2 separate regions of the Homo sapiens genome follow, and region 2 is linked to region 1. Evidence: fine-mapped expression QTL. A gene starts in region 1. The other region holds a variant in brackets. All regions are shown on one strand. Distances are from middle to middle.

What was found.
Region 2: its variant is fine-mapped to the expression of LINC02395 in nasal epithelium (TOPMed, PIP above 0.99).

The regions. Positions count from the first base shown.
Region 1 is chr12:49,910,789-49,913,697 of GRCh38, reverse strand. It overlaps LINC02395 (long intergenic non-protein coding RNA 2395), which reads right to left and starts at 1,745. Exons shown (of 6, transcript NR_110048.1): 1 at 1,615-1,745. LINC02396 (long intergenic non-protein coding RNA 2396) reads left to right here and starts at 1,835. Exons shown (of 2, transcript NR_146570.1): 1 at 1,835-1,884.
Region 2 is chr12:49,919,320-49,922,228 of GRCh38, reverse strand. It overlaps LINC02395 (long intergenic non-protein coding RNA 2395), which reads right to left. Exons shown (of 6, transcript NR_110048.1): 2 at 1-303. Among named protein-coding and RNA genes, the nearest start is that of LINC02395, 8.8 kb to the right of the region's middle. The variant A/G (reference allele first, on the strand shown) is at 1,395.

The DNA.
Region 1 (2,909 bases):
CAACACAAGCCCAGGCCACCATCACCTCTCCCATAATGGCAGCGGTAGCTTCCGCGTGTCTCTTCTCTGTCCTGCAGCCAGGGGGGCTTCTAAAATGGCCAATCTGGGCTGGATGCGGTGGCTCACACCTGTAATCTCAGCACTTTGGGAGGCTGAGGCAGGTGGATCACTTAAGGTCAGGAGTTCCAGACCAGCTTGGGCAACATGGTGAAACCCTGTCTCTACTAAAAATACAAAAATTAGCTGGGCATGGTGTGCATGCCTGCAATCCTAGGTACTCGGGAGGCTGAGCCACAAGAATTGCTTGAACCCAGGAGGCGGAGGTTGAACTGAGCTGAGATCGTACCACTGTACTTCAGCTCCAGCATGGGTGACAGAGTGAGACTGTCTCAAAATAAATGAATAAATAAATTAATTAATTAATTAAATGGCCAATCTGAGTGGGTGCCCACCCCTTCAACCTCCCTTACTCTGTAACTTCCCAAAGCCCTCCCCTGTCCACAAGGCTGGCATGATCTGCCTGATGCCCCAGGTACTTCCCCATCTTACAGCCTTTGCACAGGTGTTCCCTCTGTTTAGAACACTCATCCCCTCGCCAACCCCACCTCATCACTCGGGGCTGCTGGAGGCCTCCCCCGGACGTGCTCCTCCACCCATCTGCATTACTGCCCTGTTATTCTTCCACAAGGCAGCTTGGGCTTTGGCTTTGAGGCACTCGCCATGTGTGATTCTGCACTCCAGCATGTGGCTATTTACTTAAGACCTGCTTCCCCCTCTAGACTGTGAGCTCCTGGAGGGCGGGGAGGGGGTCTCTTGCTTGCTTCTGCTCTCCTAGCTCACGACATGACTCTCAGGCTGGGCTGGAAACACTTGGTTGAATAAATGAGTTCTGGTCCCCACCCAAGCACACAAGGAGTGACCCACACTGCTGCCGGGCCAAACTGCACTGAAAAATGGCATTGCTGTGTGGACGTGGCCCTGCCCACGTCCCGCAGGCAGAGCAGGAAGGGCTGAGGAGCCCTGGCCAGGCAAAGGGAGGTCATGGACACAGCACCGACACCTGCCCACCCCTTTCCAGTGACCCAGTCCTGCCTCCCACAGCCGAGCAGTGCTCTGTCAGTATGGATGGCCTGGACAAGTAGGGTAATGCAAGAGGCCTGGCAAGTTGAGGGCTCTGGCCCCTGGCCCCGCCTGGCTCTCCGCTGTTCCCAGCTGTCTTTTCCTCATCACTCCCTCCTTGGCCCAGACTTATCCTTTCATGTTATTCCTCTGGGGATGGTCTGTCTCCTACTGGAGGCTTACTCAAGGAAATGAATTTTTAGTGGTGGAATATTGAGCCTGTTATAGTCTCGGCCAAGGGTAGACGGCTGGGAAGGGGGTCCCTCAAACCCCACCTCTTAGACAGTTGCCTCCTGTCCCTGTGAATACAGCTGCTTTGCCTGGATCAGCCTCCAACCTCACTCTGGGCTAGGCCACCTTCTTCCTAGGATTCAGCTCAAAGTTGGCGCCTCATGTTTTCCTTCCTCCACGCCTTCATTTGCACACCATTCTGGTCCCCTGCAGGGCCTCATTCTCCTCCCCCAACATCACTGTCTCTTGTCTGTTGAAGCCTACCCTTTAAGATGCAGTTCAAAAACCACCTCTCCTTCAGGCCAATCCTTTTCAATCTCCCAATCAGATATAACTTCTTCTGAATCCTCCAAAAGCACAGTACTGATAACCTTCAATCATATATGGCTTTGTCTGAAGGATACTGGGGGACAAACAGCTGTCTCTGTTGTACCTGACATTCTAGAATGTCATGGTTCTTTGTTGCATGTAATACAAGTTGGTGCTGGTTATAAGCTTCTGAACAATGATGAGGATGGTGGCATTTGACATTCGGTAGGTGCATTCGACTATAAGTTCCTTGAGGGTGTGGATGAGAGTTCCACGTCTTTGTCTCCCTAGCACCTAGCATGGTGCCGGCACACAGTAAATTCTCAGCAAATGGTTCTGTGGTTCAGAATGGATGTTCACAATAATGGCTCTAACTTGTCAGGCCTGTCGTATGCCAGGCTGACATATGACGTATGTGCTGAGCCCTGTCCAAATGTCATCTCACTGAGTTTTCACAATCACTCTCTGGGCCAGGCACCAATAGTCTCCACTAAGAAGTAACCCCACAGGGCCGGGATTTGTGTCTGTTGTGGTCACTGTTGTACACACATCAGTGTTTGACATGGAGTTGGCCCTCATAAATATTGTTTGAATAAGTAAATCAGTTCATGGATACCCATTGTAAAGATGAGGAAACTGAGGCTCAGATTTACCTAAGGTCAATCATCTAGTAACTGGGAGAGTCAGAATTGGCACCCAGATTGATCTGACCCCAAACCCTGTATTCTTCAATATTGAACTCTACCAGGTCAAGGGATGGAGCAGGAAGGCTTGAGATACACAACCCATATCTTTAAGGCACTTTCCATCTGGTGGAGAAACGGAAATGTATGCACATAGCGGCACATGCGATGGCAACAGAACCCGTGAGACCCTGGGGAAAGAACTGACTTTTCGAGGGCCTGCTGCAAGGGAGGGGCTAAGCCTGGCCTAGAACTTTAGTTACCTGAAAACTTGATTTTTTTGTGTTATTCTAACGTGCAGAGGGCCTGTGCCAGGCCTACCAAGGAGTGAGCTGATGCGGCTGAGAGTTTTGGAATGTGAGGCTGGGATGACAAGCCTGGGGCCTGGCTCTTCTGTGCTCAGTGAGGACTGCTCCAGCCTCAGCCCCAACTCCCAGCAAAGCCCAGGTGTGGGGAGCAGGGGAGGTGAGACAGAGATGAGGAGGGACAGAAATGTGGTTTCACACCTGACCCAGCAATTCCTGCAGCTGGGAAGCATGGCGACTCAGAATGCCGATGCCTGCCCGA
Region 2 (2,909 bases), 8.5 kb before region 1:
TTGCCTCATCTGCTGGCACTCCTCTCTACACACCCTTCACTCTGGCCACTGTTAGTCACCACCCTGAACAGGCCACACCGTATCACACCTCCACACCTTTACACAAACCGTTCCTTCTGCTGGGAATGTCCCCTCCCTTTGCTACCCAGAGAATCGCAGCATCGCCAGCCTCTGCAACACCTTCCTGTTCTGTCTGTATCTGATGTGGAGGCCCGCAGCCCGGGTTACACCCCTGGCTCCACCACCTACCTGCTGAGTGACCTCAGGCAAAGTTCTCTACCCTCTCAGCCTCAGTTTCCTCATCTGCAAAATGGAGAAGATAACAAGACCATCCTTCAGGGTGTTGTAAAGATGAACTGAGATCATGTGGGACCTGGCCCCTTCCTGGCACACACGAGGTGTAAATGATGACTGTTAGTACTATCCTTAGTGTTCCTATCAATACCTCACTCTGCCCAACTGCACTCAGGATCTCTGCCCTCTAAGGTGACCCAAGGACCCCCCAGGCCAGCTGATTCTGGAGAAGCATGGGGATGGGGAGATTTCCTGCAGTCAGCCCTTTCTCTCTCTTTCCCTCCCTCCCTCCCTTCCTTTTTTCCTTCTTTCCTCCCGCCTTCCTTCCTTTTCCTTTCTTTTCTTTTCCTTTCTTTCTTTCTTTTTCTTTCTTTCTTTCTTTCTTTCTTTTTCTTCTTTCTTTTTCTCTGTTTCTCTCTCTCCCTCTTTCCTTCCTTCCTTCCTTTTTTTCCTTCCTTCTTTCCTCTCTCCGTCTCTTTCTTTCTTTCCTTTCTTCTTTCTTTCTTTTCCTTTCTTCTTTCTTTTTCTCTGTCTCTCTCTTTCTCCCTTCCTTCCTTCCTTCTCTCTCTCTTTCCCTGCACCCTGCCTACCGCCCCCCCACCCACAACTACAAGAGGATTTTGCTCTGTCACACAAGCTGGAGTGCAGTGGTAAGAACACAGCTCACTGCAGCCCTGACCTCCTGGGTTCAAGCAATCCTCCCTCCTCAGCCTCCTGAGTAGCTGGAACCACAGGCATGTGCCACCACGCCTAGCTAATTGTATTTATTTAATTTTTGGTAGAGGCGGGGGTAGAGGTGAAGGGTCTCACTACGTTGCCCAGGCTGAACTCCTGGCCTTAAGCAATCCTCCCACCTTGGCCTCCCAGCATTGATCAGCCCTTTCTGATTAATGAAACAATTAGGAGGAGAACCATAATGGCAATGGAAACAGAACTCACCAAGAACAGCTGTGTTCTTATGCAAGGGTCTGGGTCACAGCAGGTGAGGGGGGAGTCTGGGGAAGGGGAGAGACTGCAGCTGCAATAGGGGTTGCACCCCCCACACGCCAGGCTTGACTGTGCTCCATCCCTGAGGGGAAGTGCCAGGGACGGCCCTGCTC[A/G]CCTTCTGGCCTGGTCTTCCCATCTATCAGGGCCTGCAGGAGGGCATCACCATCACCCTCTCTCTTCTCCACAACAACCGCTAGAGGACAGTGGGCTGTGGAGTCAGACTGCCCCGGTTCAGGTCCCTGCCGCGCCCCTTTCTAGGTGTGTAACCTTGGACAAATTGCTCAACCACCTGTGCTTCAGTTTCTTCCTCATCTCTAAAGTGGGGACAATAATAACGACTCCTGCTTCACTGAACTGATAGGAGGATTAAATTGCCATCATGTCTTTAAGACGCTGAGCACGATGCCTGGAAGACAGTAAGCACTCAGGAAATGTTAGTTATTATTAATCATTTCCTTATCGGGGGGTGGGGAAATAGAAGGAAAGAGAAGTGAAGTAACTTGACCAAAGCCATCCAGCTTGTAAGTGGTGGAGCCAGGATTCCACCCACGGGTTGTTTGCCTCCAAAGCCAGAGTTCTCTCAATTTTTCTATGTTGTCCCTTGTAATCACCCTTACTCCCTAAACTTAAGCTGGAAAAACAATTTTTAAAAAATATCCTAACTGGCTGGGCGCAATGGCTCACAGCTGTAATTCCAGCACTTTGGGAGGCCGAGGTGGGCAGATCATGAGGTCAGGAGTTCGAGACCAGCCTGGGCAACATGGTGAAACCCCGTCTCTACTAAAAATACAAAAAGTTAGCCGGGTGTGGTGGCGGGTGCCTGTAATCTCAGCTACTCGGGAGGCTGAGGCAGGAGAATTGCTTGAACCCAGGAGGCAGAGGTTGCAGTGAGCCGAGATTGCGCCATTGTACTCCAGCCTGGATGACAGAGCAAGACTCCATCTAGACAAAAAAGAAAAACAAAATACCCTAACTATAATGGCAATGTGTTGAAACATTTCAAATGTATGTAAATCCATAAGTTTATGATAAAAATTAATGATCACTTTCAGAGATGCTAGGGAACTCGCTCATTATTTTGAAAACTATAGGATTTTCAAGCCTCTAGATTTAGGGATGCAATCAAACTCCAGACTCTGGGAAATTCTACAGCAAAAATGACCTGGTTTCCTCAACAAATACATTGTAAGGGTGGAAAAAGAGAAAAAGGGGACCTATAATTTAAAAGAGACTTAAGGCCGGGCGCGGTGGCTCACGCCTGTGATCCCAGCACTTTGGGAGCCTGAGGCAGGCAGATCACATGATGTCAGGAGTTTGAGACCAACCTGGCAAACATGGTGAAACCCCGTCTCTACTAAAAACACAAAAATTAGCTGGACATGGTGGTGCACATCCGTGATCCCAGCTACTTGGGAGGCTGAGGCACAATAATTGCTTGAACCTGGGAGGCAGAGGTTGCAGTGAGCCAAGATCCCGCCACTGCACTCCAGCCTGGGTGACAGAGTGAGATCCTATCTCAAAAATAAATAAATAAATAAAAGAGCCTTAAGGCACAGTGGCTCATGCCTGTAATCCCAGTGCTTTGGGAGGCTGAGGTGGGAGGATCGCTTGAGGCCAGGAGTTTGAGA